Regions from separate parts of the Homo sapiens genome. Here all the other regions are linked to region 1. The links come from fine-mapping of genetic effects on gene expression. A gene starts in region 1. Each other region holds a variant in brackets. All regions are shown on one strand. Distances are from middle to middle. Region 1 holds the start of SECTM1 (secreted and transmembrane 1). Region 2 holds the start of FSCN2 (fascin actin-bundling protein 2, retinal). Region 3 has its middle 12 kb from the start of LINC01970. Region 4 holds the start of TEX19 (testis expressed 19).

Region 1 (5,142 bases):
GGCACAGGGAGACCTGGCACAGGGAGACCAGGTACAGGGAGACGAGGCGCACGGAGCCTCAAAACTTCTAGAGTGGGCCGGGCGCGGTGGCGCATGCCTGCAATCCCAGCACTTTGGGAGGCTGAGGCAGGTGGATCACCTGAGGTCGGGAGTTTGAGACCAGTCTGAACAACGTGGTGAAACCCCGTCTCTACTAAAAATACAAAAAAATTAGCCGGGCGTGGTGGTGCACGCCTGTAATCCCAGTTACTTGGGAGGCTGAGGCAGGAGAATCGCTTGAACCAGGGAGGTGGAGGTTGTGGTGAGCCAAGATCTGGCCACTACATTCCAGCCTGGGCAACAAGAGCGAAACTCCGTCTCAAACCAAACAAAACAAAAAACAAACTTCTAGAGCGGGAAAAGATGGAGGCGGCAATCAGATTTCTCTCAAACCACGAACACAGGGGTCGGTATCTGAGGCGCCGGCACCAGACACGGCAGGGTCTGAGTGCTCCCTGACAAGCGATGATGCGCAGGCTTGGAGCCATGCCAGTGACACGCCTAGGAAAGTTCACGCACCGCCCAGCACGCCTGCGCATGCCTGTTCCCGCTCCCTGGTGCCCCGGGCGCCTGCCTGTCCCGGCTCCCATGGGTGCTGGGTGTGTGGAAGCTCCGGCCCCCTCGGGCTGGGTTCATTGGGGTCCTCCTGTGTGGTCAGTGGACTCTGTACCCCCACAGCACCTGAGGGGTGGCTGACACTGCTTTCCCAGCTGCTGCAGGGGCTCAGGGAACACAGGTGACCCCACGTCTCTACCGAGAATGAGCACACCAACACCTCTCAGAAGACAGCTGCAGCCTGCAGAGGCCATGGACCCCACCCAGGCCCACGGTGTGGACGGCTCTGCCCTGGTCTCTGCTGAGCCAGGCCCAGAGGGGACCCCAGGTGAGCAGCAAAGCCCCCCAGGCCTGGGGCTAGACCGGGCTAACCCTTCCTGCTCAGCACCTGTTCACCTGTCCCCTCTGCTGGTGGCCTCCTGTCCTCCCGCTCTGGGCTCAGCAGCAGCCCCGTGGAGAGGCCCTGCCACCACCCCCGCCCTGCTGGAGACAGGCCTCCTACGCGGGCTCCTGCAGCCGGTCGCCCTGGGCCTCCTAGAAGCCGGGGATCCTCTGCTGACCACCGGCAGAAAACGTGCTTCTCAAGCTGCAGGTGATTCACCAGTAGTGGGCAAGGAACTGAATGTGGTGATTACTGCGGAGTCAGCAAAACCCGCGTGAGAACGGGCAGCTGAGGGCCTGCCGGGTGAGGGAAGCCTCACGGTTCCTGTTTCATGAGTTTGCTGTGAGTGCACACGAGGCTGTGGCTGTGGAGTGTGCAACAGTCCACGCGTGCCTGCGTGTGCTCATGTGCGTGTGTCCACCAGCTTGTGTGCACGCATATGAGCGAGTGCGTTTTGCTCCCAGCTTGGTCGCAGCGACGGCGCAGGGAACCCCGGGTGAGGCCGAGGACCGGGAAGGGAGGAGGGGGCTCCGACCCATCGGACTTAGGGGAGCCCCGGGTCCGAGACGCCGCCTCTGTCCCTTCAAGAGTCGAGCCTGGCGCACAGGGCAGGGACGCGGGTCCCCACACCGGCCGGCAGCTCGTTCCCGCCCATACTCGGGTACGCCCGCTGCGACCCCGCCCGCCTGGCCTGCGACGCACGCTCAGGGCCAGCGGGGGGTGACGGTCCCAGAGGCAGAGGCGCCGCAGCCCCAGAGTCCCCATCCCTGCGCGGACCGGCAACCCCAGTGCACCAAGAGGCCCTAACACCGAGCCCCCAGCACCGAGTCCCCAGCACCGGGCCCTCAGCACCGAGTCCCCAGCACCGAGTCCCCAGCACCGAGTCCCCAGCACCGAGCCCGCCCCTCTGGTTCCCCCGCCCGCCCCTCTCCGCGCCTCACCGGGTCCGCTCCTGGACGCGCTCCTCTGGGATGCAGCTTCTCCGCGCCCCGGAGCCCCAGGAAAATGAAAGACACGAGAGGGAGGGGCCAGGGAGGAGGCGGCGGACCCGCGCGGGACCCACCTCCCAGATGAGGAAGGAGCTGGGTTTACGGGAAGCCTCCAAGTTTCGGGAACCACCCGCGTTCACAACAAGCGTGACGGTGAATTTATTATTTTCACGGGAGGCACCGCACCCGCGGTTCACGCTAAAGGAAGCAGGAAAGCCGCCGGGAGCATTTTTCCAGGAGAGTTCGTGCCTGGGCGGGTCCAGCTCGCGTGCGGCGCGCGTTCCCCGCGGGGCTGTTTGGCTCCGCTCCTGGAGGCCTCGAGTCTGTGCACGGGGCGAGCTGGGCGGGCCGAGTGGGCCGCGGGGAGGGAGGGCGGGGGGCGGCCCCCAGATGCCTGGGAGTGCGCGGGCAGAGTGAGCTGGACCCCCGGAGGGTCAGAGGCCCTTTCATAAAAGCGCGCAGAGCAGAGGAGTGATGTCCCCCAGCTCCCCCGCAGAGGGTCCTGCACCTGCGGCCTGGGCCTTCAGGCGTCCTGCGGCCCCTGCGGAGGTGCTGGCCTGGCCAGCCCGGGAGGAGGGGCCCAGCCTGTTGGGGCAGGAGATTGGGGTGCGGGTAGAAGGCTCCAAGACGCATCCGGGCCGGGAACCCACAGACATCCCAGGTGGGCAGGAGGTGGCTCGAGGAGGCCTGGAGGACCCGGCGCCTGGCGGGGTGGCAGGCGGGCCACGTCCTCCACTAGAACCCGAGGGGGCACGCGGGCAGGTGCGGGCGGGGTCAAGGATGACCAGGTATCTTCGGGACACTAGGAGGAGGCCCCACAGGCTGCAGTCACGTGAGTGGGCAAGTCCCCACCGGGCAGATGATGGGGGACACTGGGGCGTGGGCAATGCCCCCAGTTTCATGGAAGAGAGGAAGAAGCAGAACCAAACTCCGGGAAACCCTCAAATGTGGGGAATGGACGGAGCAGGGCCAGACTGGACGCTGAACCTTGGAGCCTGCAGCTCAGCCATCAGACCCAGGGTCCAGAGGTGGGTGGCACAGAACAAAGTCCCCCGGGATGTTCCAAAAGAGAAACTGTCGCCAAATTGGCAGGTGAAACACAGCCTGTCATCCTCCCAGCAAGACGGCACCATGGCCGGGGCACAGAGGTCAGATTCCCCAGCCCCCGCCCTCGGGGAAACCCCAGCCACCCTGGCTGCCAGTGAGATGCTGGAGAGGGGGCTGAAATCCCACCTGCCCACGTCCTCTGCACAGAGGGGCTTGTCCCCGAGGCCACATCCCCCAGCAGCCACAGCTTCCTTCTCCTTTTTTCCTGCCTACTAGATCTCTCAACTCAGAGGGGGCTGCAGTTCCTGGGGGCAGGGGGGTCCGGCTGCTTAGGCAGGAGCACCTGCACCGTGAGGCTCTGGAGGGCAGCTGAAGGCTGGCAGGCTTTTGTCCCGTGAGGGGACACCACTGGGGGTTGGAGGAAAACGCATATCCTGATAAAGCATTTCATGTTGTGAAAGTGAAACTAGTTTGTTTATTTTGGAAGTAATACAGGCACAGAAACAAAATAGAATGAAACCAACTGTTGCCTTTTCCTCCCCACCCTGGCTTCAATTCCCAGGTTGAGTTATGGACACTGCCTTACCTATCCTTCTAGAAGTTTTCCTGGTCCATACAAACAGCACAGCCATCCACTCACGTTTATTTCTTTCTTTTTTTTGAGACGGAGTCTCTGTTGCCCAGGCTGGAGTGCAGTGCTGCAGTCTCGATCACTGCAACCTCTGCCTCCCAGGTTCAACTGATTCTCCCACCTCAGCCTTCTGAGTAGTTGGGATTGCAGGCATGTATCACCACGCCCAGCTAATTTTTGTAGTTTTAGTAGAAATAGGATTTCATCATGTTGGCCAAGCTGGTCTCGAACTCCTGACCTCAGGTGGTCCGCCTGCCTTGGCCTCCCAAAGTGCTGGGGTTACAGGTGTGAGCCACCACATCTGGGCAGTATCTTTCCATTTCTTTTTTTTGTTTTGAGACGGAGTCTCGCTCTGTCGCCCAGGCTGGAGTGCAGTGGCGCAATCTCGGCTCACTGCAAGCTCTGCCTCCTGGGTTCACACCATTCTCCTGCCTCAGCCTCCTGAGTAGCTGGGACTACAGGCGCCCGCCACCACGCCCAGCTAATTTTTCTGTATTTTTAGTAGAGACGGGGTTTCACCGTGTTAGCCAGGATGGTCTGGATCTCCTGACCTTGTGATCCGCCCATCTTGGCCTCCCAAAGTGCTGGATTACAGGCGTGAGCCACTGCACCCGGCCGTATCTTTCCATTTCTATACAATGCTGGGATCAGGCATCTTAGAGCGGATGTGTGGATTCATTCACCCTCAGCCTGTCCTTGAATCACAGCCTCTGCTGTGCCAGGTGACATGTGGAGTTTCATTTCCTTTCTGTTCGAGGAATTTGTAGATTTCAGTTATGATTTTCTGTTTAACTCTCCAAATTATTCGGCAGCATATTCTTAAAATCCCCAAGGTCCTGGAGCATTTGCTTTTCTTTTTTTTGGAGACAGAGTCTTGCTCTGTCGCCCAGGCTGGAGTGCAGTGGTGCGATTTCGGCTCACTGCAACCTCCGCCTCCCTAGTTCAAGCGATTCTCCTACCTCAGCCTCCTGAGTAGCTGGAACTACAGGCACGTGCCGCCACGCCCAGCTTTTATTTATTTATTTATTTTATTTTTGGTAGAGACGGGTTTCACTATGTTAGCCAGGCTTTTTTTTTCTTGAACTCCTGAGCTCAGGCAATCCACCCGCCTCGGCCTCCCAAAGTGCTGGGATTACAGGCGTGAGCCACTGTGCTGGCGGCATTTGCTTTTCTTTGTAACTTGATTCTCTGGGTTCCCTTGCCTTTCATCCTTGCCCACCCACGTGACTGCAGCCTGTGGGGCTTCCTCCTAATGTCCCGAAGATAACTCGTCATCCTTGACCCCGCCGCCACCTCGGGTTCTAGTGGAGGATGTGGCCCGCCTGCCACCCCCACAGGCACCGGGTCCTCCAGGCCTCCTTGACCCACTTCCAACCCACCTGGGATGTCTGCGCGTTACCAGCCCAGATGCCTCTTGGAGCCTTCCACCTGCACCCCATCTCCTGTCCCAACAGGCTGGGCCCCTCCTCCCGGGCTGGCCAAGCCAGTACCTCCGCAGG
Region 2 (5,142 bases), 810 kb before region 1:
CTGGGCTCAAGCATCCAGGATCAGTGGTCTAGGCATGGGGGGCTTGGGGTCCTTCCCCTTGGAGCACCAGACGGGCCAACTCGGGGAGGGGAAGGGGGACCCTGGAGCACCAGGACAGCCCGTCCACCAGCACCTCAGAAAGGGAACGATTTCCTAAGGGCTCTCGGGAAACCTGAGGGTGGACACCAGGTGCCGGTGGGGGCGCATGGCTTCCTGGTCCTGCCCAGCTGGCCCCGCACTGAGAGGGATGGAGGCCGAGGCTCAGGCCTCGGGAGGCTGCCAGGGGATTCTGATGGCTGAGGCATTCCTTGCCCTCTGGGCTCAGGTGAGGCCAGGAAGTCTGTCACAGCTGGCTGCTCCCTGGACCAGGGGGCTGGGGGTACTGCTACCCCAAACAGCCTCTCACTGCCCACCGGGACAAGGCACCCCCTCCCAGGTGCAGACCTCAGCTTGGGCCTCAGGCACACACTGGGCAGGGGCTTCCACCAGCCTCAGAGGTGGGCGAGGGTGGGGCGTGGAGCCCTCAGTGTGGCAGCGCCTTTGAATGTCGCCACAGTGCAGCCTGCACAGGTCAGGGTGGCAGGCACGTGTGTATCCCATGTGAGTGGTTGGTTGGCACCTCCGGAGGTGTGGCCACAGGGCTTGGTGAGGGTCAGTGGGAGGGGTGCTTCCTGTTGCCTGAGAACACTGCAGGGGGCTAGAGTGCCCCAGCCCACCATATGCTCTTGTGAGTTGTGTATGTCTGGAGTATGAGTGGGACCCTGGAAATAGCCTCCCTTGGGCAGTGTACAACCTGGGCTCCCTGCTGGGCAGCCCTGAGTAGGCTCTCAGGCTGGGATCCAGGATGACAGTCCCAGGGTCCAGAGTTGGCCCAGCAGGCGACTCTTCTGGCAACCTTTGCCCACCCTCATCCATGAGCACCTTCACACACACACACACACACACACACACCACACTCACACACATGCACAACGCTGCACCCATGGGCAGAGGCTCAGCCCATCATACAAGAACCCGGCCCTGTGCTGGGGTCCCAGCTGCTCAGGAGGCCAAGGTGGGAGGATCGCCGGAGCCCAGGAGTTCGGGGCTGCCACTGGCCAAGATAGCGCCACTGCAGTTCAGCCTGGGTGACAGAGCAAAACCCTGTCTCTAAGATAAATAAAAAGAACCAGACGGCCAGGCACGGTGGCTCACGCCTGTAATCCCAGCACTTTGGGAGGCCGAGGCAGGTGGATCACCTGAGGTCAGGTGTTTGAGACCATGCTGGCCAACATGGTGAAACCTCATCTCTACTAAAAATACAAAAACTAGCGGGGCGTGGTGGTGGGCGCCTGTAGTCCCAGCTACTTGGGAGGCTGAGGCAGGAGAATCGCCTGAACCTGGGAGGTGGAGGTTGCAGTGAGCTGAGATCACGCCACTGCACCCCAGCCTGGGCGACAGAGCAAGACTCTGTCTCAAAAAAAAAAAAAAAGGCTGTGCCTGGTGGTTCACGGCTGTAATCCCAGCACTTTGAGAGGCTGAGGAGGCCAGATCACAAGGTCAGGAGTTCGAGACCAGTCTGACCAACATAATGAAGCCCCGTGTCTACTAAAAAATACAAAAAAAATTAGCTGGGTATGGTGGCAGGCGCCTGTAATCCCAGCAACTCGGGAGGCCGAGGCAGGAGAATCACATGAACCTGGGAGGCAGAGGTTGCAGTGAGCCAAGATTGTGCCATTGCACTCCAGCCTGGGTGACAGTGTGAGACTCTGTCTGAAAAAAATAAAATAATTAATAATAACCAGACTCCCGACATCCAACAATCTCAGGCACTTATTAAGTACCTGCTGTGTGCCAGAAATTTTGCTGAGAATCCAGAGGAAGCGATCCTAGCAGGTGGCTGGGCAACAGCCTGGGGTCCTGAGGTGGAGGCAGGAGGGGCTGGAATCCCTGTAAACGGCCTCCCTCCAAGGAAGCCTGGCCCAGGCGCCCACCCTTCAGTCACCCTCCCCTGTTTAGCTCACACAGCTGGGTCAGTGCCAGGCAGCCCCACCCAACGTGGAGCTGTGGGGCCCTAGAACTGAGGAGCCGCCATCATTTCTGGCTCTGCCACCAAGAGGCTGCCCAGAGCCAGGCCCACTTAGTGCCGGGCGGCCAGGCTTCCCCCTGCTGAGCACCCGATGCCTAAGCGCCCTGCCAGCCCAGACAGCGCTAATGAGGCCGTCGTGCCAATCAGAGGGGCAGGCCGCCTGGGCTCCTCCTCAGCCTGGCTGGGCGTTGGGGTGTGGAGGTGAAGCCAGTGTCTGTGCCTGGGGTGGGGGGGACCATGGGCACAGCTGCCCCTCCGGCTTCCCCCACCGCTCACGGACCAACCGAGCTGTACCCTCAAAATCCAACGGGAGGCCGGGCGCAGTGGCCACGCCTATCATCCCAGCACTTTCAGAGGCCGCGGCGGGCAGATCACTTGAGGTCAGGAGTTCGAGACCAGCCTGGGCAACATGGTGAAACCCCATCTCTACTAAAAATACAAACATTAGCCGGGCACGGTAGCAAGTGCCTGTAATCCCAGCTACTTGGGAGGCTGAGGCAGGAGGACTGCTTGAGCTCGAAGGTTCCAGTGAGCCAAGATTGCGCCACTGGACTCCAGTTTGGGTGAGGAGCGAGACCCTATTTCAAGAAAAAAGTTTTTTAAAAAGAAGAGCCAATGGGAAAGTGAGGTGCAGGCAGCACCCTAGCTTGTATCCCTAAACCAGAGACAGTTCCCTGGCATCGGTGCTAGGCCTGTGTCCTCAGTCCCCTGGAAACTGTGGGAGAGTGTGTGTGGGCATCGTCTCTGGGAAGGGGGTGAAACCCCAGACTGCGTCTCCCCAGGATGGTGCCTGGCACGTGACCTGGTTTCGCACACAGTTGGTGCCTCATAAATGCGTGTGAATCATAGAGGCGGATGAGGCCAGCACACAGGGAGAGGCGAGAGCAGGCCCTGGCGT[C/T]GTGGCGTACGCTGTGCCCTGGGGGGTATTTGCATGTGGGAGTCTCTCTGCCCCCACCCTGGCCCCTGAGCGTGGGGACAGTGGGGACAGGTCTCCTCTTTTTCCTCCCCTGTGTCTGCAGGTGCCTGGCACGGTTGCTGTCCAGGGCTTAGAGGACAGAGGAAGAGCCCCTGAGTCTGTGCACACTCTGCCACCATGGCCCTGCCCACCTCTGGAGCCCACAGGTGCCCAGCCCAGGCCCCTTGCTTTTGGCTAGACTCCTGCCCTACGGGGACCCCCATGATGGCCACTCAGGAGATGGGCCCAGGAGGACAGGGGAGTGACTCCAGGCCATGACCGGAAGGGGCCTGTGGCCCCTGTTCCCAGTCCCCAGGGAGACGGGAGGGTCACACGCTGTTATGAGGAAGAGGACACCGGGCTGGCCCTGGCCCAGGGTGGCCAGCTCTGGTTTCACTACTTGGCCCCAAGCCCCTGAGGCAGGTGCAGGAGCCAGGCACGGTGAGCAGGGCCCAGTGCCCCTCAGGCTCTGGGGAAGGGGTACAGCCAGGTGGCCCAGAGCAAGGAGGTGCTGTAGACAGGTGTGACCACTTCCAGTCTCTCCCGGCCTGCTGGCCTTCATCCTCTCCCAGATTCCAAGGGCCACCGCTGGGAGCATGGGGTGGACATCGTCCCACCAGCCTCCTGGATCCACATCCGTAAAGACTCCAAAGTGAAGTGAGGCTGGCTTCACTCCAGCTCACAGCAGAGGAGGGGGCAGCCTCAGGGCCCAGCAACTTGCTCAGAGCGCACAGGAGTGCGCTGGGGCCGGGCCAGCCTGGCCCAGGGCCTCTGACTCTGCCCCCTGCCTGCAGGGCTGCACGGCCACTGTGTTCCACCCTCCAGCGTGGGTGGCAGTCCAGTGCGTCATTCTGGGGCCTGAGCAGTGTGGCCAGAGGCCGGTCTGGGGTGGAGGCGACCTGGGCTGCAGGTTGTGGCTGGGGTCCTTGCTATGCTTCTGGCAGCAGGAATCAGAGAAGCAGTAACTGGATCCAGCTGAGGGCCTGGCGGCCACCGAGGGTACGGGCGGCGATCAGGTTGCGGCCGAGCCGTGAGCGTTCCACTGGACGGCTTCTACATCCGGAAGGGCTGGGCCGGGCCGGGCCGGGAGCCCACACGGGGTTGGAGGAGGGGGGCAGGAACGAGAGAGGCCAAAAGGTGCAGGGCCGTGAAGAGGGGCGCTGGGCCCACGCTATGAGGAAAAGGGGATCAACCCTGCCCTCCAGCCCCGTAGGCCCTCAGGCCCTCGGGCTCTGGGCTCTGTGCAATCCGGGAGTGGCTGAAATCCAAGCTGAGGGTAATGAAAGGTGCTGCTCCTAAGCCGCACGTCTCTGATCCGCCCTCCCCGCCCGCCCTCTGCTGCCCGCGGGCCCTCTAAGAGCTGCCCAGGCTGCTGCCGCGGGTCAGAGGCGGGTCAGAGCAGGCAGGGGGTTCGTGACGCCGGCTGGGTCTGGGGGCTGTGGGCCAGCCGAGCCGACCCGGGCTTCTGGGGGACCGCGGGGGCCGTGAGCACTCAGAGGGCGCATCCCAGGCCCCTCCGGGGACCCGGCCAGCCTGAAGATGCCGACGAACGGCCTGCACCAGGTGCTGAAGATCCAGTTTGGCCTCGTCAACGACACTGACCGCTACCTGACAGCTGAGAGCTTCGGCTTCAAGGTCAATGCCTCGGCACCCAGCCTCAAGAGGAAGCAGACCTGGGTGCTGGAACCCGACCCAGGACAAGGCACGGCTGTGCTGCTCCGCAGCAGCCACCTGGGCCGCTACCTGTCGGCAGAAGAGGACGGGCGCGTGGCCTGTGAGGCAGAGCAGCCGGGCCGTGACTGCCGCTTCCTGGTCCTGCCGCAGCCAGATGGGCGCTGGGTGCTGCGGTCCGAGCCGCACGGCCGCTTCTTCGGAGGCACCGAGGACCAGCTGTCCTGCTTCGCCACAGCCGTTTCCCCGGCCGAGCTGTGGACCGTGCACCTGGCCATCCACCCGCAGGCCCACCTGCTGAGCGTGAGCCGGCGGCGCTACGTGCACCTGTGCCCGCGGGAGGACGAGATGGCCGCAGACGGAGACAAGCCCTGGGGCGTGGACGCCCTCCTCACCCTCATCTTCCGGAGCCGACGGTACTGCCTCAAGTCCTGTGACAGCCGCTACC
Region 3 (5,142 bases), 30 kb before region 1:
CCTGTACTCCCTTTGCAGTCCTCTGTCTCCCCCACAGGGACCCCAGTTTCTGGGCCCCCCCTCACTGCTCTTCCTGGACCCCTCTTGTCTTCAAGGAGGGGTTGGGTGGGGCTGGCTCGCTGGGAAGCTAAGCAGCAGCTGGCACTGGGCCTCCGCTGCAGGTAGGAAGTGGTGTCTGCGCTGGTGGGAACGCGGTTTACCCGCCCACACAGGCTGCTCGGCCCTTTCTCCGAGTGTGAGGTGTGCTTGGGGAGGCCGGCGGCCGAGTGGCCAGGCCCAAGGCCTTAAAGAGAAGTGGGTCTCTTCGGCTTCCCAGGCTGGGACTTTGAAGACCAGAAAACGTGAAATTAGGACCCGCCACAAGGAGAGGGAGTTGGAAAAGCCCAGGTCCCTTTGCAGATCACCCCCTTGTACTGAGGTTTCTGAAGCTCGGGGTGAGGGCGGATGCAGGGAGCGGGGCAGCCTGGTCCCAGAGCCCGGGGTCTCAGCCAGGCAGGATCGGCAGTGACCATCTCCTGGTGCCGCCCCGGGACCTGGCTGCCAGCTGCTGCTCCTGGGAGGGAGACTGGGGAGGGTGAGGGGATGCAGCCCCCGACCTGAGCAAAACCACTTCCATGGGGCTTGGGGCCCCTCCCCAGAGAAGCCCTCTTCCAAGTCACCACCAGCGTACGGACCCAGGAGGCCTGAGGCAGGCGGGGCGTCCTCCGTCTGGGTGACCCTCTCCCGGCCTGCATTATGGGGCTGGGAGCGGCTGGGCCCAAAGCTGAAGGCGGTCTTTCGGGTGCTGAGCCTTTAGCAGGGCTGGGAAGTTCCATCCTTCATGACAGAGGCCGTCAGGGGCTGCTGGGGTAGAAACCCAGGCAGGGGTCTTATTAGGACAGGCAGTCCTGTCATGGATGGAGGAGTCCCAGGTAGCTAGGGCGCCTGCTGGAGGCCCCAGGCCAGGGGTGGGCGGTGGTTTGGAGCCCTGCTCCGGGGGTGAATTCTGTGGCAGAAGAGAGACAGAGGCAGGATGCCGCCTCCGCGACCACTGTGAGAATCAGGGAGCTCAGCCCCCAGCGGTCAGCCCCGGCCCGAGTCTCAGCTTGAGCTTGCTGAGCAGCTGGGGGCGTGGGTCTGGCCGGCTCCGCACCTCTACACCGCGGCTTTCCCTCCATGGCCACGGATGGCCAGGCACTCCAGCCTTGGAGCCAGGCCTTCTGCTCCAGCCTCTGGGAGCCATTTCCCAAATCCCACAGCAGCCCCCAGTCTGTGGGTAAGGAAGGAAAGGGGCAGCTGTGTGGCCAGCACCCACAGCGTCCTCACCCTCCCCCGGTTTCTGGCATCTTCCTCCGTGGTCTAGGGCGGACTTTGATCTTCAACTCAGGAAGCACCAAGAGTTCGTGCACAGGACGGCGCAGGCTGTTGCCCCAGAAGCTAGGGGAGGGGTACCCACTGTGTGGTCTCACGGTGTGGAGCACCTGGGGTAGGCAGGCTGAGCGTGGGAACGGCCCTGGCCATTTGCGGTGGCCCTGGCCTCTGGTGCCTGTGTCCCTGTGTCGGGGGGCACCGCGTCCTGTGGGTCTTTGCACCGCACTGAGCCCCTCCTCCACCCTGCACAGCTTCTGAAGAGCTCATCCAGCTGTGGCCACAGGCCCTGGTGGCGACTCCCCACTTCTGTGGGGCAGGGGAGGTTGAGGTCTCTCCGGAGGGGACCTCTCCTTCTCCATCATTGTTACCTGGGGCAGGCGAGTGCCCTTCAGACCTCGCTGTCCTGACCGGGGCCACCTCCTCCTGGCTCAGGCTTGGTTTTATTCAAGGAGAGGCTGGGTCTCCCTGGCTCCCTGTGAGCCCAAGAAGATTAAATGCATTAAACAATGGGGTGAAGCTGATGGCTTGAACCTGAGGGAGAGGCGGATGTGCTCGGGGGGCACCTGAGGAGCCCCAGGCCCAGGGGTGTCTCCAAGCAGGCCAGCCACCTGCCACAGCCTGGAGACCGGGAGGCTCGAGGGTCCCGGAGGCTGCCCACCGGATGCAGGGCAGCTTGAGAGTCTCAGCGGGACAGCAGCTCCCGGCCCGGCGGCCGCCCATCAGTCAGCCCACCCCACTGTCCTTCACCACTCCAGCAAGTGGAGGGGCTGAGGGGGCCCCTGGGGCTGGGGGTGGGAAGGAGAAGGAGCCCTGGGGGAGAGGGGCTTGTCGGGCGAGAGAAGGGGAGGGGAGTGGAGGGGAGGCGAGGAAGGGAGGAGAGAGGAGCAGATGCGACCTGGCCCTGTCACGGGGAGGCTAGGGCCCCTCTACAAGGCTCCCGCCCTTCTTCCAGCTGCCCTCTGAGGCCCTCTGGCCTCTGAGCACCAAGAGCCCCAGGCTCCCCGCCTCCAGGCTGCTGGGTTCTGGCCGACCCACCCTGGTGGGAGCCGACTCATGTTCTCCCTGCTGACTCTGCGAGCCTGGAGGTGGCCCGGCCCCATCCATCCCCTCCCCTCCCCCTGCTCCCCACCCCTCCGCTCCTTGCCCCCTTATCTCCTTCCCTCTCCCTCCTCCCTTCCTCTCTTCCCCATGTCCAACGCCAGCTCCCGGGCCCCACTCCAGCTGCCCAGGCCACAGTGATTCCCTGTCCTGTCTTCTGAGGCCATTTTCCCAACAGCATTGGCTGAGGCAGGAGGATCACTTGAGCCCAGGAGGTGGAGGCTGCAGTGAGCTGTGATCGCGCCACTGCGCTCCAGCCCAGGCAACAGAAAGAGACCCTGTCT[CA/C]AAAAAAAAAAAAAAAGAAAAGAAAAAGAAAAAGAAAAAGTTGACTGAGTGTAAAAGTCACTTATTCTGAGGAACAAGAACCTACTCCTGGCTCCAGCTTTGCTCCTAACCTGGCATTTGGTTTTGAGGATGTTACTCAGGCCCGGAGCTCCCATTGCCACTCAACTGGGCATCCTCGTGCCTGGGGAGGCCCAGCACTGGCTCTAGGGAAAACGGGACATGTGGAAGGCTGGGGGCTGGAAATTCCTGCCATGGGGCTCGGGGGTGGTCTCAGTCCTGCCCCTGAGTTCCCGGTCGACCCTTGGAGAAGCTGCGGCAGATGGGATCTCTGACATGGGATCCGTGCTGGCGCCCTCCCTCCTGCAACACAGAACTAACAACCCCACCTTCAGGGCCTTTGATGCTGCGCACACACCACCGGCTCCGCGAGGCAGCCTGTCTGGCTGGACCTCGCTGAGGCCTGTTCACCCTGAAGCACCTGACCACAGACCTCAGCCCTCTTAAGGCCCTGGAGGGGGCCTGGCAATGTCCTCACCCGGCTGGGGTTGTATACAATTTGCTCAAGCTGTTTTGACAGCAGTTGGTCCAGACTGCCGTCTCCTCTGGCATCAGGTGCCCGGAGCAGTTCTGGGGCCCAGCTGAGGGACACTGAGCTGGGGTGTTTAGCTGGGCTTAGCTTAGTGGGGTATGTTGATGGCTGTGCAGTTGCTCCGAGACTGAGGATGTTGTTTCCAGCTGTCTGAGAGAGGGATGTTGCCCTGGATTGAATGGTGTCCCCTGAAATCCGTGTCCGCCTGGAACCTCTGAACAGGGCCTTATTTGGAGACAGGGTCTTGGCAGATGTCATCCAGTTGAGGTTACTGGATGGCCCTGAATCCCACGCGGCTGGTGTCCTGATGTGAAGAGAGAAACCACAGGCCTGGGAGAAGGCCACGTGACGATGGAGGCAGAGACTGGAGCGGCGCAGGCACAAGCCGGGAACGCCAGGGCCGCCGGCAGCCCCAGGAGCTGGGAGAGGCCTGGAGCCCGTTCTCCCTCAGAGCCTCTGGAGGGAAACAAATGATGTCACGACACTGTGGCCACCTGAAGAGGCGGCCAGAGAGCAGGCAGCAAGACGAAGCAGCAAAAATACAAGTGATCCACTCTGCTGAGTGACTGCTCCCCCCGACCCTCTGCGCTGCCCTGCATGCGGGCTTCCGTTACCACACCGTGTGTGAGCCCCCAGAGGCAGCTTCCTGCCTGTCTGTGTGGTCAAGTATGGTTATCTTTGGGTGTGGAGGAATTAAGAATTTTTATTCTCTTTTTCTTCTTTTTTTTTTTGAGACAGGGCCTTGCTCTGTCACCCAGGCTGGAGTGCAGTGGCACAATCTCGGCTCACTGCAACTTCAAACCCTGGGCTCAAGATATCCCCCTGCCTCAGCCTCCCGAGTAGCTGGGATTACAGGCACTCGTCACCACGCCCAGTTAATTTTTGTATTTTTTGTAGAGACTGGGTTTCGCCATGTTGCCCAGGCTGGTCTGGAGCTCCTGGGCTCAAGTGATCCACTCACCCCGGCCTCCCAAAGTGCTGAGATGACAGGCGTGAGCCACCGCGCCCGGCCTCGTTCTCATTTTCTTGCTTAGTTCCTGATGACAGTAAATGAGCATTTAAACAAGGTTTCATGTACACTGATGCTAGTGTCTGTTTTCTGTTTCACAAGCGTAGAGGTCCATGTTAACTAATTCATGACTTAGATCTGAAGGAGCACATTAAAAGCTTGGGCTTAAATGGGTGATGTATCTGGTTTTCTCTGTGGCTATATCATTCCTGGTTTGCATGTTTTGTCTTTATTTTTAGTTTCACCTGTGTTCATACTGGTTATATCTTATTCTATTGTTCCATTTTGTCAGAACATAAGATTGATGACTTTTGTTTTCTTCTGGTTCCTATCTGCCTCATAAGTTTTCTATCCTTTTATTTCCAACCTATTGGTGTCCTTTTGTTTAAAGTGTGTTTACAGGTGTGGTGGCTCATGTTTGTAATCATTGCACTTTGGGAGGCTGAGATGGGAGGGTCACTTGAGGCCAGGAGTTTGAGATCAGCCTGGGCAACACAGTGAGACCCGTCTCTACAAATAATTCAGAATAATTAACTGGGTGTGGTGGTGCACACCTGTAGTCTCAGCTACTCAAGAGGCTAAGGGAGGAGGATTGCGTAAGCCTGAGAGGTGGAGGCTGCACAGAGCTGTGATCGAGCCACTGCACATCAGCCTGGGTGACAGAGTGGGACCTTGTCTCAAAAAAAAAAGGAGAAAGAAAGAAAGAAAAGAAAAGAAAAGAAAAGAAGCCGGGCGCGGTGGCTCATGCCTGTAATCCCAGCACTTTGGGAGGCCGAGGCAGGTGGATCACGAGGTCAGGAGATAGAGACCA
Region 4 (5,142 bases), 23 kb after region 1:
GACAGACCCCAGGAGTGTTCAGGACAGAGCCCAGGAGTGTTCAGGACAGAGCCCAGGAGGGTTCAGGACAGACCCCAGGAGGGTTCAGGACAGACCCCAGAAGGGTTCAGGACAGAGCCCAGGAGGGTTCAGGACAGACCCCAGGAGGGTTCAGGACAGAGCTGGCCACAGCCGGGTACAGCGCCCAGGCCCTCTCTCCTTCCTTCCTCTCCTGCAACCATTCTTCCTACTTGAGAGTAAGATACAGAGACCTTGCTTTTTGCACTCTCTGGAGAATGTGTGACTGGTGATGTTCTTTCCTCTTATTTGCTTGCCTGTTTTCTAAATGTTTGATAATGAATTTGTTTACTTTGAAATAAGCAAACAATACCAAAAGTTATTTTTAAAAGGACAGCCTCTAAGTCCATGATTACAATTTGGATGATGAGCCAGTGTGGTCGAGGGTGTTCTGATCCTCACACAGCACTGGTGACAGACCTGACCAGGGCACGTGGAGGTGCTTCCACATGGCAGTGGCTTCTTGGTCCTTCAGAAGGATGGAGGCCACCAATGGGCCACGGAGCTGAGTAGGTGGACAAAGCAAATGAGCAGGAAGGGTGGGCTGGGAGTGAGGGGAGGGTGACTGTGGTCCCCTGGATAGTCTGTTGTAAAGAAGCCACCTCGGCTGGGCACGGTGGCTCATGCCTGTCATCCCAGCACTTTGGGAGGCCAAGGCGGGTGGATCACGAGGTCAAGAGATTGAGACCATCCTGGCCAACATGGTGAAACCCCATCTCTACTAAAAATACAAAAATCAGCTGGGCATGGTGACAGGCACCTGTAATCTCAGCTACTTGGGAGACTGAGGCAGGAGAATCACTTGAACCCGGGAGGTGGAGGTTGGCGTGAGCTGAGATCGCGCCATTGCACTCCAGCCTGGGCAACAAAAGTGAAAGTCCATCTCAAAAACAAACAAAAGAAACAGGCAGCTTCTCAGAACACATCTGTCCTCCATGTCCACGGGCGCATCCCACCCCTGGCCACCACCGTGTGGCTTTTCTCCGTGGAAGCAGAGGCCATGCATCACTCCCACAGGCAGCCTCTCTCTGACGAGCCTCAGTAGTAAATTCATGCAAGAAACAAAGAAAACTGCTCCTGTCCTTCTTCAGTGCTGTGCGGAGGAGCGAGAGGGAAAAGCCAACCATAACGCCATTGCATGTGCTGCTGAAATGCTTTGTGCAAACGTTGAGACTGGAGGTGAGGGCGGAACTTTGTAATATAAGAGCAGTAAGATAAATGTTGATTTTAAAATCCAAGTACTTGGACTTTGCTAGAATATTCCATAATCTTTTCCTGGTCTTGATTATTAAACAGTTTTCAAGAAAGTTCTATTTGGTGAGTCACCTGATGATCTAAACACACTTTTCTTTCTTGTTTGATTCCAGCTGGGTCACCTGCCAACAGAACCAAGCCCACTTGGGTTTTGGAGGCTTTGGGGGCTGGCTGGTTTCCCTGGGCATGATTGGTGACCTCAGGTCAGATTCCTGGACTTGCTGGGGATCCTGTGCCCAGGAAGGCACCAGCCCAGGAGGCTCTGAGCCTCAGCCAGGGATGCAGCAGGTTGGTAGCACCTTGGCAGCCATCCCGAGGACACAGGTAAGAAGCCAACAGAGAAGCAAGAATGTGTCTTATTAAAGCTGCTCCACTCCACAAGCATCTCTGGAATGTTCTCTGGGCCCCGGATCTGCGCGAGGCATTCTGGGTGAGACAGAGACGAAGCCGCTTGAGCTCGGAAGCCGGTGCTCAAAGAGCGTGACGTGGCCTCACCCCATTCCTCTGCAGGGCTCAGCTGGCACCTGCACCCCCGAGGTAGCTGGGGGCCCCTGAGCTTGGCCAGGCCCATCTGGCAGCCTTGTCCCTGCTTGTCCACCCCCTCTGGGTTGCGTTCAGCTTCCTGAGCTCCCCCTCTTCACCCGTTCCTAACACAAGAGCTTGTGCACCCCAGGATGGTGGGGATGGGGTTCTGGCTCGTGGGCAATCTGGGTGTCAGGCTTACGGCCCCAGTGGCTCCGGGTCATGGCCTTGGCCCCACAATGGCTGTGCTGCCCCATCAGTGGTCTCTGCAGCTGGGGAAATGCCTGGTCCTTCTGGAGATACAGGAGTGTTGGATTCCCCGATTATGGCCACGTCCTGTTCCTCTGGTACCATCCACCCACCAAGTCTTGCCACGGTTTCCCTCTGGGCCTCAAATCCAGCTGTCCATCCCAACATCTGTCTCAAGTGGCCTCTCCTGTACCCAGCTGCCCAGGAAGCGATCCAAAGGCTCCGTCCCAGGCTGCTGAGGTGACTGAGGACCTTGAGAGGGTCCTACACTCTCAGACCAGGGTGAGGCCGAGGCCCGAGAGGCAAGTCCCTGCCCAGGCCCTGGCTGGCCAGGACGCGCTGGCCACAGCTTCCCAGAGTGGACGCTGCCCTGCACCCGCCAACACTTCCCCGTCAGCTTCCCGGTCCCACACCGCTCCTGCTGGCAACGAGGTCGCAGCATATTAAATTCTCGACGCAACTACTGTGTGAAAAAGCCATGCAAACCAGCGAGGAGCCTGCTTACCACAGGGGCCCTCAGAGGGCTCTGCTGCTCCTCGGTCAAAACCTCCTTTAGGCAGTGACTCTGGCAGCTGCCGGCTGGGCTGTGTCCTGAGAACTGAGGCTGGGAGGGGCCAGGTGGGAGGGACCTCATCCTCCAGGCGCCCACTGGCCCAGCCCTGAGTGTTCACGACAGGTGCAGGGCTCCCTCCCCGGCCCCCTTCTGGCCAGGGCAGCCACAGCTCAGCCCCGAGGCCTTGAGTGGCCTTTTCAGAGAAAACCAGGACCTGGGGGCTCCTCCCGGGAGCCTCTGACCCCCAGACCCATAAACAGGCTTCTCTGTGGGGTCCCTCAACCACTACTTTCCTCTCACCTGAGGGGACCAGCCAGACAGCTCAGGCACCCGAGTCTTTAGGGAATGAGCTCACTGCCCTCTCCACCCACAGCAGGACACCTGGCAGCCAAAGCCCCACACCTGCCCCTAT[C/A]CCAGGACTGGGACGAGGAAGCCCCAGGGTGAGGGGTGGCCCTGATCTGAGCCCTAACCTGGTGGGGGTGGCAGGCAGCCCCAGGTGTGTGGATGACCTGAGCCAGGCACAGACAGCTGCCAGGTGGGGAGGAGCAGAGGTCATGGGGATGTAGGGAAAGGGTTTGGGGGTTCCTCCCACAGGGCCACTGTGTGAGACAATTTGTCACTTTCTTACAAAACTAAACACACTCTGACCACAGCATCCAGCAATCTCACTCCTTAGAGTTTACCAAAATGAGTTGAGAACTTATGTCTACAGACACCTGCACATGAATATTTGTAGTAGCTTTATTCATAATTGCCCAAACCTGGGAGCAACCAAGATGTCTTTCCATAGGTGAATGGATAAATAAACCATGGTACATCCAGACAATGGAATACCATTCAGTGTTAAAAAATAAGTGAGCTGGCCATGCAAGGTGGCTCACGTCTGTAATCCCAGCACTGTGGGAGGCAGAGGCAGGCGGATCACTTGAGCCCAAGTGTTTGATACCAGTGTGGGCAACATGGTGAGGCCCTGTCTCACAAAAAATACAAAACTTATCGGGGTGTGCACCAGCACCTGTAGTCCCAGCTATTTGGGAGGCTGAGGTGAGAAAATCACAGGAGCCCAGGAGGTTGAGGCTGTAGTAGCTGTGATTTCACCAGTGCATTCCAGCCTGGGTGACAGAGCAAGACTCTGTCTCAAAAAAAAAAAAAAAAAAAAAAAGAAGTGAACTATCAAACCACAAAAGACATGGAAGAACCAAAGTGCGTATTACTAAAAAAGAAGTTGAAAAGGCTACATAATGTATGAGTCCAGCTCTGTGACATTTTGGAAAAGGCAAAATTAAGGAGACAGTCAAAAGATTCCTGGTTGCCAGGGGCTGGGAGAGGGAGTGATGAAAATGCAGAACACAGATGAATCGGGGCGGAGAAACCCGTCTGTACAATATTAGAGTGGTGGGTCTGCATGATTATACATGTGTCCAAACCTGCAGAATGCACAGCACCGGAGGAAAGCATAATGGAAACTGCAGAGGGCGATGATGATAATAACAACGTGTAACAAATGGCTGGGACGGGAGGACTGGGGAAGGCTGTGCACCTGCAGGAGCAGGGGAGCGGTGGGAGAGCTCCATGCTTTTGGCTCAATTTTGCTATGAACCTAAAACTGCTGTAAAAAATAGAGTCTACTGAAAAAACAAGTGTTAATTTATAAGCGTCTTGTTTAAAGAGCGAAGAGATGAACCACAAAGGGGAAAATGTGTTTAAACAATAACTAATTGACAATTGGCTGGTTCTTAAAATTCAGAGAACTTTAAGACAGAGACAGCAAAGCAGGGATCACGTTTTACAAACGCGGCAGGACCAGGACGTCGTGCCCACGACGGGCCAGCAACCACAGGCTGGATGCTCACCCTGTGCCAGCCTGCAGACGGAGAGCACCCACCCCAATCTCCAGCCCCCAGAGGAGCTGCCTCTCCAGGGCCTTCCTGCAGGTGCCCAGGGGCTGCACATGGCCCTCCTTGGAGGGAGCTGGTGACTCAGCACTTTCATTTCCTGGAAACTGAGGCTCATGGGAGATATGCAGATGAGCCCAGAGCACCATGGGAAATGGCCCTTTATATACCCAAATGGGCTCTGCCTCCTCCTTTCCCTGGGTGCCCACATGAACAGAGACACCAGGATGGTGAGATCTCCCGAGGAGGGGTCTCTGAGGAGGGGTCTCGGAGACACGGCCTGGTGCTGGGTGAGGGGTTGGGAGGCTGAAGCGGGGCCAGGATTCCTCAGGTTCCCTCAGTTTCCCTCAAATTTCCCTCAGTTTCCCTCAGGTTCCCTAAGGTTCTCCAAGTTCCCTCAAATTTCCCTCAGTTTCCCTCAGGTTCCCTCAGTTTCCCTCAAGTTTCCCTCAGTTTCCCTCAGGTTCCCTCAGTTTCCCTCAGGTTCCCTCAGTTTCCCTCAAGTTTCCCTCAGTTTCCCTCAGGTTCCCTCAGTTTCCCTCAAGTTTCCCTCAGGTTCCCCCAGTTTCCCTCAAGTTTCCCTCAGCTTCCCTCAGGTTCCCCCAGTTTCCC

The links. PIP is the estimated chance that this variant, and not a neighbour inherited with it, causes the effect.
Region 2: its variant is fine-mapped to the expression of SECTM1 in whole blood (TOPMed, PIP above 0.99).
Region 3: its variant is fine-mapped to the expression of SECTM1 in whole blood (INTERVAL, PIP above 0.99).
Region 4: its variant is fine-mapped to the expression of SECTM1 in whole blood (TOPMed, PIP above 0.99).

The regions. Positions count from the first base shown.
Region 1 is chr17:82,331,783-82,336,924 of GRCh38, forward strand. SECTM1 (secreted and transmembrane 1) reads right to left here and starts at 1,984. Exons shown (of 5, transcript NM_003004.3): 1 at 1,918-1,984. RefSeq lists a silencer at 327-611 and enhancers at 488-1,290, 3,338-3,407.
Region 2 is chr17:81,523,970-81,529,111 of GRCh38, forward strand. It overlaps FSCN2 (fascin actin-bundling protein 2, retinal), which reads left to right and starts at 4,408. Exons shown (of 5, transcript NM_012418.4): 1 at 4,408-5,142. The coding sequence starts at 4,563. RefSeq lists enhancers at 4,330-4,856, 4,857-5,142. The variant C/T (reference allele first, on the strand shown) is at 2,967.
Region 3 is chr17:82,302,194-82,307,335 of GRCh38, forward strand. No RefSeq gene overlaps it. Among named protein-coding and RNA genes, the nearest start is that of LINC01970, 12 kb to the left of the region's middle. RefSeq lists enhancers at 1-104, 1,192-1,692. The variant CA/C (reference allele first, on the strand shown) is at 2,733.
Region 4 is chr17:82,354,526-82,359,667 of GRCh38, forward strand. It overlaps TEX19 (testis expressed 19), which reads left to right and starts at 4,722. Exons shown (of 2, transcript NM_207459.4): 1 at 4,722-4,760. RefSeq lists an enhancer at 1,364-2,299. The variant C/A (reference allele first, on the strand shown) is at 3,048.